3 separate regions of the Homo sapiens genome follow, and all the other regions are linked to region 1. The links come from fine-mapping of genetic effects on gene expression. A gene starts in region 1. Each other region holds a variant in brackets. All regions are shown on one strand. Distances are from middle to middle. Region 1 holds the start of BABAM1 (BRISC and BRCA1 A complex member 1). Region 2 overlaps NR2F6 (nuclear receptor subfamily 2 group F member 6). Region 3 overlaps UNC13A (unc-13 homolog A).

Region 1 (4,136 bases):
CTCCTGAAGTGTTGAGGCTCCCATCATCAGCACTGGCGGCCTCACCCTCACCCTCGCTGCGGCTGCCCACGCTGGCCTGTGCCCCTACTGCCCGGTCCTCAGCCCCTTCAGGATTGGAGCGAGTGCGGGGCCGAGGCTCTGCCGAGTGCTCCTCTTCCTCCTCCTCCTCTTCAGTGGGGCTGCTGGGCTCTGCCACTTCCATGGCTCCTGTGTGGCTAGATGGAACACGGACAGGGGAAGCCAGAATCCTCCCCTTGGAGTTTTAAAAACATTTGGTTACGGTCGGGCACGGTGGCTCATGCCTGTAATCCCAGCACTTTGGGAGGCCGAGGCAGGTGGATCACCTGAGGTTGGAAGTTCGAGACCAGCCTGACCAACATGGAGAAACCCCGTCTCAACTAAAAATACAAAATTAGCCGGGCGTGGTGGCGCATGCGGATAATCCCAGCTACTCGGGAGGCTGAGGCAGGAGAATCGCTTGAACCCGGGAGGGGAGGCTGCGGTGAGCCGAGATCCCGCCACTGCACTCCATCCTGGGCAAAAAGAGCGAAACTCCGTCTCAAAAAAAAAAAAAAAAAAAAGATTGGTTACTAAGAAGGAAGAGGGGCGATGAGCCGCTTACTGATGATGAGTCACTCCTCTTAGGGAGTCACTTTCCTCAGCTGCAGAATGGCTGCCTTTTACACCTCTCAGCCGAGCAGCCACTCCGACATAAGATAACAGTCCCCCCTCTTTTTTCCTCTTTTTTTTTTTAACGTAGTGCTAGCCCCATGCCCCTACTCGGCCAGTGAGCACATCCCAGCTCTCTGGCCACTGAAAATGGCTCAGGGATGGGCACATGACCCAAATCAGGCCATTGAGTGGCAGCTCTGCAACTTCTAGCAGTGTCATCAAGGAAAAGAGACTCTCATTAGAGTTGCAGAGCTGGTAGAATAAAGTTGAGAGCTGTGAGGGGCCCCTTTTGCCTCGGTAAAAAGCGAAATGGTCTCCACCGAGAAAACTGCAGATCGAATTCTGACCACCTGGACCCAGCTCCTGTTAGACCCAATCTATAAGCCACCAACTTCCTTTTCTTCCTTAAGCCAGATTGAGTAGGGTTTTCTGTTACCTAAAACTGAAAATGTCTTGGTGAATAAGGGAATAATAACCTCTAGGACACCCTCGTCCCTAGCGGGTGTCTGCATGAGGGAGAAGCAAAATATTAGTACTGTGGTTCCCCTTGGAGAGAAACAGGACGCGAATGGAGCAGTTTGTCTATCTGGGAAATAGGCACGGGCTTCCCAAGATGGTCTTTGAGCGCCTTGCAGTCCCCACACCTCTAAGAAAAACAAGGCTTTAGCGGCAGCAAGAAGGATGGAGGCTACACTGCAGGAGAAACCAGAAATAAAGGCGGAAGCCCCAGGAAAGGCGAGGAGCTGGATCTCTTGGGGCAAAGGGAGCTGGGCCCCTAGGAACGGGCCCCACACGCTTTCACCACCCACCTTCGGCTCACCGTAGCCTGAACCTCCTTCTAAATCAGCCGCCGACTCACTAGGAAGCCGCCATCTTTACAGCCGGAAGTTGTACGGCGCAGCCCCGACGCCTCCTGGGAAATGTAGTTCAGCGGGCTGCAGAACAAGCAGAGACAGAAACTGGTTGAGGCTAGAAAGAACTTGGAAACTGATAGGCTGAAACTGGGTTGGGGGTGGGGTTTGGAGTGAGAGCTGCCTGGAGCTGGGTGCGGCGGGACCTGGAATGTGATTGGCTACACTGGAGCAAAGTATGAAATGTGATTGGATTAAAAAAATTAGTGAATTTTTGTTTTTGGCCGAATCAGACTACAATAGTCAGTGCTTCTACCGTGATAGGCTGAAACGTGGAATAGAGGTGGAGCTTGCAATGTGATAGGCTAAGAGGGACGGAGAAGGCCGATTTAGGGAAAGAGGAGGAGCTGATTGGTGATTGGTGGAGCTGGCCTGAGCCTCCATGTGGGGCAGGTATTCCCATGTGGGTGTGGCCTGAGCATCCAGGGCCCTTCCCAATTACTTAATTCTTGTTCCTTATTTTACATATATTTGCATGAATCAAAAAATACTTACTCTGGTCTTATTGGGTCACTGTAGGTGGAGCGAAGCTAAGTCGGGCCTATTTCAAGCCTACCTCTTTTTTCATGGCTTTTTTTTTTCTTATTTTTAGAGACAGGGTATCGCTCTGTCGCCCAAACTAGACTGCAGTCACGCGATCATGGCTAGTCACTACAGCCAAGCGATCGCTCAAGTAGCTGGGACTACAGGCGAGGACCACCGCATCAGACTACCCTAGGCTTCCTTCCTTTTTTTTTTATTTTTATTTTTTAGATGGAGTCTCACTCTGTCGCCCAGGCTGCCGTTGTCTTCTTAGTGCACACTTCCCCCTTAGCCCCAGAAGTATTTATTTATTTATTTTTATTTTTTTGAGACAAGAGTCTTGCTCTGTCGCCCAGGCTGGAGTGCAGTGGCTCAATCTCGGCTCACTGCAACCTCCACCTCCAGGGATCGAGCAATTCTCCTGCCTCAGCCTCCCAAGTAGCTGGGATTACAGGCATGCACCACCAGGCCCGGCTGAGATATATATAGTATTTTTAGTAGAGCTGGGTTTTTGTTGTGTTTTTTTTTTTCGTTTTTGTTTTTGTTTTTTTGAGATGGAGTCTCGCTGTGTCACCTAGAGCGGCTCTTTGAAGGCTCTAAGCCTTTGCCCAGGAAGTTCCTTCTGCCTGGAATGCTGTTCCTCCTGTTGCTTTTCTGGCAAGTTCTTTATGCTTCAAAGCTCACCTTACACAGCCCCTCCGGCTATTCTCGAATTAGAGCCTGGCCAATGTGGCCGGCTTCTTTGACCCTCAAAAAAAAAAAAACAACTGAGGAGTTGGGGGCAGTGGCTCACACCTATAATCCCAGCATTTTGGGAGGCTGAGGTGGGTGGATCACGAGGTCAGGAGTTAGAGATCAGCCTGGCCAATATGGTGAAACCCCGTCTCTACTAAAAATACAAAAAATTAGCTGGGTGTGGTGGCGCGCACCTATAATCACAGCTACTCAGAAGGCTGAGGCAGAAGAATTGCTTGAACCCAGGAGGTGGAGGTTGCAGTGAGCCGAGATCGCACCACTGCACTCCAGCCTGCGTGGCAGAACAAGATTCCATCTAATAAAATAAAATAAATAAATAAACTGAGGCTTCAAGTGGCTCTTAAATGTTTCTGGGGCTGGTGGGGTCGGTGGCTCATGCCTGTAATCCCAACACTTTGGGAGGCTGAGGTGAGTGGATCACCTGAGGTCAGGAGTTTAAGACCAGCCTCGCCAACATGGGAAAAACCCATCCCTAGCCGGGTGCGGTGGCTCACGCCTGTAATCCCAGCACTTTGGGAGGCCGAGGCTGGCAGATCACTTGAGGTCAGGAGTTCGAGACCAGCCTGGTCAGCATGGTGAAACCCTGTCTCTACTAAAAATACAAAAATTAGCTGGGCATTGTGGTGGGCACTTGTAATCCCAGCTACTCGGGAGGCTGAGGCAGGAGAATTTCTTGAACCCAGGAGGTGGAGGTTGCAATGAGCCAAGGTTGCGCCACTGCACTCTAGCCTAGGCGACAGAGCAAGACTCCATCTCAAAAAAAAGAGAACTGTCAGCCCACAATGAAGAGACAGGCAGAGAAGAAAAGTTCACAGGGGAGCCAAATAAAAACCATCAGCTCACGGGAACATTCTAGCTCTTTTTTTTTCTTTCTTTTTGAGACAGGGTCTTGCCTTATTACCCAGAATGGAGTGCAGTGACGTGACCACGGCTCACTGCAGCCTCAACTTCCAGGTGTTAAGCAATCCTCCCACCTCAGCCTCCTGAGTAGCTGGGACTACAAGCGTACGCCACTACTCCTGGCTAATTTTTATATTTTTTGTAAAGACGGGGGTCTCGCCATGTTGCCCAGGCTTGTCTTAAACTCTTGGACTCAAGCGATCTGTCTTCCTCAGCTTCCCAGAGTGCTGGGATTACAGGTGTGAGCCATGGTGCTCGGCCCATTCTAGCTCTTGAGAAATAAAATCCAAGAGTCAGAGCTAGAAGGGCCATGAGTTTGGAGGCTGAGAAGAGGAGGGGCTGAAACCTTGGGAGTCAGGTATGTGTGCCCCGCTA
Region 2 (4,136 bases), 26 kb after region 1:
GGGGGACTGTGCAGCCATGGGAGAAGTCAGAGCTAGGTGGGCCTGAAATGCTGGCTGAGGGTAATGGGGAGCCATAGAGGGTGTGTGAGCAGGAGAGGGCTCTGATCAAATTGGACTGGAGGCCAGAAGCCCAGGGAGGAAGCTGAGTTGGGCCATGGGGTTGGGCAAAAAAGCTTGCACTCTTTAGGTGGGATAACAGGAAGAACTTAACTGTTTCCCTCCTTGGAGGGATGGATCTGTCCCAATTCCACAGCTGGGGAAGTTGAGACTGAAGGTTCAGGGCCTCCCCTGAGGTCAGGGGCCCCTGAGCTGGGCCTCTGCCTGCCTGCAGGGCCGCCCCAGGCCAGGCCGTTTCCACCCGGCTGCCCTGGACCCTCCCACCACCCAGCCGCTGGGCTTTGTTCTGGTTCTGCCTGAGCTCCCTCTGCCCTAGTGGGGCCTCTTCCCAGGGGCTCAGTGGCTGGTGCTGCAGGACCCAGGCAGTGGTGGAGGGGGGGTACGGGGGAGTGGGCGCAGATCCTCAGCTTTCCTAAGTTGGGTTCTCCGGCTGGGCTCTGGGTCTTGGCACTGTCCCCCGTGAACCCCTCTGACCCAGTCCATCCCATATGATAGGGCAATATCTGACCTCCCATTTTCAGATGAGGAAACCGAGGCTCAGTGGGGCAGTCGCCACCTGAGGGGCAGGGCTGGGTATCTGCAGCTGAGATTCATCTGTTTTGTTTTGTTTTGTTTTGTTTTTGAGACGGAGTTTCACTCTTGTTGCCCAGGCTGGAGTGCGATGGCGTGATCTCAACTCACTGCAACCTCTGCCTCCCGGGTTCAAGCGGTTCTCCTGCCTCAGCCTCCCAAATAGCTGGGATTACAGGCATGCGCCACCATGCCCGGCTAATTTTGTATTTTTAGTAGAGACAGGTTTTCTCTATGTTGTTCAGGCTGGTCTCAAACTCCCAACCTCAGGTGATCCGCCCGCCTCGGCCTCCCAAAGTGCTGGGATTACAGGCATGAGCCACTGCACCCAGCCTTTTTTTTTTTCTTTTTTTTTGAGACAGAGTCTCACTCTGTCACCCTGGCTGGAATGCAGTGGGTCAATCTTGGCTCACTGCAACCTCCACCTCCCCAGTTCAAGCGATTCTCCTTCCTCAGCCTGCCAAGTAGCTGGGATTACAGGCATGCGCCACCACGCCCAGCTCATTTTTGTATTTTTAGTAGAGACGGGGTTTCACCATGTTGGCCAGGCTGGTCTTGAACTGACCTCAGGTGATCCACCCTCCCCCGCCTCCCAAAGTGCTGGGATTACAGGCGTGAGCCACTGCAGAGATGCATCTGTTTAATTCCCTTAAGTGGTGGTTCTACTCTGTGACTGTCTCTGTGTGTCCCCTGGGTGTCCAGCTGGAACCCCAGGGGTAGTTGCTCCAGGCCCAGGCCTTGGAGAGCCCCCAGCTCCTGGTGGCAAGAGACCAGGGGAGTCCAAGGGCAGGGGCCAAGGGGAGAAGGTTCTGGGGACATTTGAAGAATAAGGCCTGGACCTTCCTGCTTGGGGGCTGACCCAGGATGGGGAGCTCACCACCTCTCAGGGTGGGGCCACCTGTCTCATCCCTGCAAGAGGCAACGGCATTCACTGAGGGCTGACCAGGAAAATCTCCAGCTTGCATAGGGGTTGGGTGGTCCTCTCGGAAGAGCGTAGGTGTGGGGCCTTCAGGGCTGAGGACCAGAGTGACTTTGTTTACTTCCTCATTCCTTGGGGTGGGCATTGTGCGGGTGATAATGCTGGGGCCCCACAATGCTATGACCCCACAGACCACTAGCCCCTGGCCTGACCCCTAGTTAATTCACAAAGTCCAGCTCTCTGACCATGTCCTCTTTGCCTTCACATCTTTTTGGGGACAATGACCCTGCTCAGCCTGACAGTGACCAAATAAAATGAAACTCTTTAGGCCTCCATATTTGTGTATTTCAACCCTTTTGCTCTGGCTGTACCCTCTCTCTGGGATCACCCCGCCATTCACCTGGAGAACTCCTATTCATCCTTCAAAACCCATGCCAATGTGCCCTCCCTGGGGTGTTCATCTGCTTTTCCACAGATTCCTCTTCATCCATCACCACTCATCCGGGTTATCCTGTCTGGTTTGCAGACCTGCAAGCTGAGCTCCTGTACCCCTTTGGGGCTACCTCTCCAGTCTAGAGGGCCCCTACTAGTATTTCTGAGGGGCAGCCTCCAAAGGCGGCTCATAGGCTGGTTCGGGGAGGAGGATATGGGGGTCTCAGGGAGCCCTGGCTTCTGTGTGCCCCCAGGTCCAACCGTGACTGCCAGATCGACCAGCACCACCGGAACCAGTGCCAGTACTGCCGTCTCAAGAAGTGCTTCCGGGTGGGCATGAGGAAGGAGGGTGAGTACGTGCTGGGGACACACTGGGGACGATCACAGC[C/T]GCTGGAGCCGGGGTGAACAAACAGCTTCTTCCTCCCCTTTTTCCCCTCCCTTTCACCCCTCCCTTTCACAGGGGTCTGGGTGCCTCACAGGGTGGGGGCCGGCGCCTGCTAACCTCATTACCACTGATCCCTTGATCCCGTGGGCTGCAGTCTGGCCCTAGGCTGGAGGAATCCAATTAGGATCCGTGGCCCCCTGGTTGCTGCCGTGGAGCTGAAGAGGCCAGGGACGCCCCACAAGGGACTTTCCCCAGCCCCATTCTCTTGCAGGAGCTGCCTTCCCCAATTACCCCCGACTCCAGCCTCAGAGGCCAGTTCCCTGGCCCTGACACCTTGGTGACCTCTTGTCTGCTAGCGCGGCCACCGCGTTCTGAACAAGGATTTTTTTTTTTATTTGATTTGTTTCTCCTCCACCCTTCACCCATGCTTTTTGTTTGCCCAAGGCAGGAACTCTGCCCGATTAAGGCAAAGGGCAGCTTACCCTTTCTTCTGACCCCGGGCGCTGGGAGCAAGAGTGAGGCCCAGCTGTCTCTGCTCAGGGGACCCAGGTGGACGGGCGTATTCTGGGCTGCTGGGCCTAGAACTCTGCCAAACCCCCTTAGAATTCAAGTAGAACCCAGAGATTTCTGCATGGATTTCTGGGGTTCAGGAATAGAATCTAGCCTATTGGACGAGATCTCCTGTGCTGGGTTTCAGGTTCCTCTGGGGACTGTGTCGTGGGCCAGGCTGGCAGTTCTTTCTAATGTCTAACCTGAGCCTCCCCTGCTTTGAAGTTTTTTTTTCCTTATTTTCTTTATTTATTTTTATTTTTATTTGAGATGGAGTCTCGCTCCATCTTCCAGGCTGGAGTGCAGTGGTGTGATCTCAGCTCACTGCAGCCTCCGCCTCCCGGGTTCAAGTGATTGTCCTGCCTCAGCCTCCCGAGTAGCTGGGACTACAGATACGGGCCAACACGCCCAGCTAATTTTTTTTTTTTTTCTGAGACTGAGTCTTGCTCTGTCGCCCAGGCTGGAGTGCAGTGGCATGATCTCGGCTCACTGCAGGCTCCGCCCCCTGGGTTCACGCCATTCTCCTGCCTCAGCCTCCGGAGTAGCTGGGACTACAGGCGCCTGCCATCTCGCCCGGATATTTTTGTATTTTTAGTAGAGACGGGGTTTCACCATGTTAGCCAGGATGGTCTCGATCTCCTGACCTCGTGATCTGCCTGCCTCAGCCTCCCAAAGTGCTGGGATTACAGGCGTAAGCCACCGCGCCCGGCACGCCCACCTAATTTTTGTATTTTGTTTTGTTTTGTTTTTGAGACAGAGTCTCGCTCTGTTGCCAGGCTGGAGTGCTGTGGTGCCATCTCGGCTCACTGCAACCTCTGACTCCCTGGTTCAAGCGATTCTCCTGCCTCAGCCTCCTGAGTAGCTGGGATTACAGGCACATGCCACCACGCCCAGCTAATTTTTGTATTTTTAATAGAGATGGAGTTTCACTATGTTGGCCAGGATGGTCTCGATCTCCTGATCTCGTGATCTGCCCGCCTCGGCCTCCCAAAGTGTTGGGATTACAGGCGTGAGTCACCGCGCCTGGCCTAATTTTTGTATTTTTAATAGAGATGGTGTTTCACCGTGTTGGCCAGGCTGGAGTCTCCAACTCCTGACCCCAGGTGATCCGCTCGCCTCAGCCTCCCAAAGTGCTCGGATTATAGGCATGAGCCACCCCACCCG
Region 3 (4,136 bases), 410 kb before region 1:
TGGGAGAAGATTGGGGGTGGGAGTAGAGAATTAATGGAGGAAAAAGATGTGGGGGACAAAAGCAAGGTGTGAGAGGTGTTGGCAATGGAAACTGAATACCTGTTGAGAAGAGCCAGGAGGGGGCGACATGGCTTTGAATCTCTTGGGGCTGTGAGATTATGTGAAATGTGAGAAGACTGGACCTCAGTGGGGTGCCTGACATATATTCAGGTTACACCTCCCACAAGCAGGTGGGGCTGGACAATCTCTGTCAACCCTCCAGCCAGGACCCAAGTGTCTCCCTGTACATTACTTTTGGTTGTTGTTGAGACAAGAATCTCACTCTGCTGCCCAGGCTGGAGTGCAGTGGCATGATCTTGGCTCACTGCAATCTCTGCCTCCTGGGTTCAAGTGATTCTCCTACCTCAGCCTCCCAAGTAGCTGAGACTATAGGCGCCTGCCACCACACCTGGCAAATTTTTGTATTTTTAGTAGAGACAAGGATTCACCATGTTGGCCAGGCTGGTCTTGAACTCCTGACCTCAGGTGATCCACCTGCTTCAGCCACCTAAAGTGCTGGGGTTATAGGTGTGAGCCACCGTGCCTCGCCCTCCACATGCATTTTGAGAGCCAGCTCTCTGGGTTGCTTTGTCCCAACTCACCCAGCCTTCTTTGAGGCTTCCCCAAACCCTGGGAGCATTTGACATTGCAGACTGAGCTGGACAATCAAGGGAGAGGTCTTGCTGACCTGTCGGGGCTGGTGGAGTCATCAGAGATTGTCTTTATCCTCGCCTTCTTCTTCTCCACCTCCTCAACTTCCCCTCTTCTTCTGGGGCAATCCTGGAGGGCTTCTTGTAGGAGGCCTCTCCCACCATCTGCCCAGCTCTTTCTTTCTAATCTTGTTCAATTGTGGGTAAAGGCACAGCTAGTTGGGAGCTTGGGGAGTTTGATGGGGACAGGGGATGCAGGGAGAGGGAGGGGCAGGGAATGCTCTCAGGGTCCAAATTTCCTTCCATTCTAGGGTTGCCTGTGCTCATCTGTCTGATGGCTTCTCTCTCTCCCTCTCATCCCTGCCTCCTCTTTCCTACCTCTCCTCCTCCCCTTGTCTCTGTCTCTGACATTGCTTCTATCTTTCTTTTTTAACATCTGTCTCTTTTGCTTTTTATCTTTGCCTGTCTCTCCTCTGTGTCTCTCTCCTTATGTCTCCATCTTGGTGTGTCTCTGAATCTCTCCGTATCTCTGCCTCCTCCTCCCCACATCTCTCCCCACCTCCCTTCCCTATCTCTGTCTCTCTCCACAGTCAAAAAAGCCAAGTTTGATGGTGCCCAAGGTAAGTGGCTTCTCTTGCTGTCCTGTCCCGTGTTGTCTGTCTGTCTGTCTGTCTCTTGGAGAGACTGGGAGGGGGTCCCAGCCCAGACTTAGAGTTGGGCTTTATGTCTTCTGAGCATCAGGAGAGGGGTCAGAAGATTAAATAGGGGGAGGGGCAGCCATTGGCCTGGGGTCCCTGCAGTTTGTATGGGGGTCCCCGGGTCTCCCCAGCCATCCTTGGAGAGTCTGTAAGGGGTGGGGCTTGCCCTGAGCCAGTGGCTCTTCCCAGGGTCCTAAGAGGTAGAATGGGGACTCTTAGATGGGGCTACAGGTGGGAAAAATGAGGCTCAGAGAGGCGAAAGGAGTTTCTTTCTTTTCTTCTTCTTCTTTTTTTTTTTTTTTTGAGACAGAGTCTCCTTCTGTTGCCCAGGCTGGAGTGCAGTGG[C/T]GTGATCTCGGCTCACTGCAACCTCTGCCTCTGGGTTCAAGCAATTCTCCTGCCTCAGCCTCCCAAGTAGCTGGGATTACAGGCGCCCTCTACCACGCCCGGCTAATTTTTTTATTTTTAGTAGAGATGGGGTTTCGCCATGTTGGCCAGGCTGGTCTCAAACTTCTGACCTTAAATGATCCGCCCGCCTCGGCCTCCCAAAGTGCTAGGATTGCAGGCGTGAGCTACCGTGCCCTGCCTTTTTATTATTATTATTTTTATTTAAAATTTTTATTTTTTGAGGCTGGAGTGCCGTGGTGCAATCATGTTTTACTACAGCCTCAACCTCCCAGGCTCAAGCAATCCTCCCACCTCAGCCTTCCAAGTAGCTGGGACCACAGGCGTGCACCACTGCACCCAGCTAATTATTTTTTTGTATTTTTTAGTAGAGATAGGGTTTTGCCAAGTTGCCCAGGCTGGTCTTGAACTGCTGGGCTCAAGCAATCCTCCCCCCTTGACCTCCCAAAGTGCTGGCATTATAGGCGCGAGCCACTGCACCCAGCCTGCAAAGGGGGTTTCTTACAGTCAATTTTGTTCCCCTTTTCTGGGACCTCAGTCTTTTTAGCTGAAAACCAATGGCATGGTCATTTCGAAGCAGCTGGATGAAGTATCCCAAAATTCCACGTCTCCCCACACTGAGGCCCCTCCCTTGTGCCCTGAGGGTGGGGTTGTGGGTTAGGGGGTGAGTGGCCCAGAAATTCCTGAGGGGATCACAGCAGATGGTCTAGAGCTTGGGAAGGGGCATTGGAGAGTCCCTGAGCCCCAGCGCTGACCCCTACTCTCACTGCCACAGAGAAATTCAACACGTACGTGACCCTGAAAGTGCAGAATGTCAAGAGCACGACCATCGCGGTGCGGGGCAGCCAGCCCAGCTGGGAGCAGGATTTCATGTTGTGAGTCTGCAGCGTCTGGCATGACCTCACTCCCTGGCATAGCCCAGCACCTCGCTGGCCCCTCAGGGCAGAGCTGGACACTGGGGAATCCCGGGTGACTCCCCTCTGTCCTCCCTCTTCCCCTGTCCACCTTATCACCTTCACCTCCAAAACACATCCCCAATCCAATCACTTCCCTTGGTCTCCGCAGCCACCAGCCAAGTCCCTGCTGCCCGCCAGCCTCCGCCCTGGCCTCCTGTGCCATCCACCTCCTACAATCTGTTCTCCTCCAGGCAGCCAGGGGGATATTTTTAAAACTGCAAATCACATCCTGTCGCTCCCATGTTCCAAACTTGTCCGTGGCTCATCGACCTCACAATAAAACCCACAGCCTTCCCCGTGATTCCCACCAGGTTCTCGCTCTATCTCCCTCACCTGCCCCAGCCACACCCACCTCTGCCCCTTTCTCCAACACTTCCCAGCTTGTTCTTGCCCCAGGGCCCTTGCACTTGCTCTCCTGTCCCCAGCTGGCTCTTCTCCTTCAGGTCTCAGCTTGTGTCACCTCCTCAGTGAAGCCCTCCCTGACCACTACCTCCAAGCTACAATTTCAGGGCATCATGCCTTCCCAGGCCTTGCCACCAATTTTGTTTGTTTGTTTGTTTGTTTTGAGGCAGAGCCTCACTCTGTTGCCCAGGCTGGAGTACAGTGGCATAATCTCGGCTCACTTCAACCTCCACCTCCCAGGTTCAAGTGATCCTCCTGCCTCAGCCTCCCAACTAGCTGGGATTACAAGCGTGTGCCACCACACCCGGCTAATTTTTGTGTTTTAAGTAGAGATGGTGTTTCACTATGGTGGCCAGGCTAGTCTCAAACTCCTGGACTCAGGTGATCCGCCCACCTCAGCCTCCCAAGGTGCTGGGATTATAGATGTGAGCCACCATGCCTGGCCAATGGAATTTTTTTCCTTTTTTTTTTGTTTTGTTTTGAGACAGAGCCTCACTCTGTGGCCCAGGCTGGAGTGTAGTGGTGCAATCTCGGCTCACTGCAACCTCTGCCTCCTGGGTTCAAGCTATTCTCCTGCCTTAGCCTCCCGAGTAGCTGGGACTACATGTGCGTGCCACCATGCCCGGCTAATTTTTGTGTATTTAGTAAAGACCGGGTTTCACCATGTTGGCCAGGCTGGTCTTGAACTTTTAACCTCAGGTGATCCACCCGCCTCGGCCTCCCAAAGTGCTGGGATTATAGGCATGAGCCAGGAGCCACCAATCCCAGCCAACAGATATATATATCAGATATATATATACTTTTTTTTTTTTTTTTGAGACTGAGTTTTGCTTTTGTTGCCCAGGCTGGAGTGCAATGGCGTGATCTCGGCTCACCGCAACCTCCGCCTCCTGGGTTCAAGCAATTCTCCTGCCTCAGCCTCCCGAGTAGCTGGAATTACAGACATGCACCACCACGCCCGGCTAATTTTGTATTTTTAGTGGAGATGG

The links. PIP is the estimated chance that this variant, and not a neighbour inherited with it, causes the effect.
Region 2: its variant is fine-mapped to the expression of BABAM1 in whole blood (TOPMed, PIP 0.98).
Region 3: its variant is fine-mapped to the expression of BABAM1 in putamen (GTEx, PIP above 0.99).

Annotation. Positions count from the first base shown.
Region 1 is chr19:17,264,873-17,269,008 of GRCh38, reverse strand. It overlaps BABAM1 (BRISC and BRCA1 A complex member 1), which reads right to left and starts at 1,566. Exons shown (of 9, transcript NM_014173.4): 1 at 1,482-1,566; 2 at 1-215. The coding sequence starts at 202. RefSeq lists enhancers at 1,078-1,789, 1,297-1,796, 2,057-2,516.
Region 2 is chr19:17,238,922-17,243,057 of GRCh38, reverse strand. NR2F6 (nuclear receptor subfamily 2 group F member 6) reads left to right here. Exons shown (of 4, transcript NM_005234.4): 2 at 2,293-2,387. Among named protein-coding and RNA genes, the nearest start is that of NR2F6, 4.9 kb to the left of the region's middle. RefSeq lists a silencer at 3,625-3,803. The variant C/T (reference allele first, on the strand shown) is at 2,427.
Region 3 is chr19:17,673,185-17,677,320 of GRCh38, reverse strand. It overlaps UNC13A (unc-13 homolog A), which reads left to right. Exons shown (of 44, transcript NM_001080421.3): 2 at 1,280-1,309; 3 at 2,565-2,664. Among named protein-coding and RNA genes, the nearest start is that of UNC13A, 13 kb to the left of the region's middle. RefSeq lists an enhancer at 169-238. The variant C/T (reference allele first, on the strand shown) is at 1,733.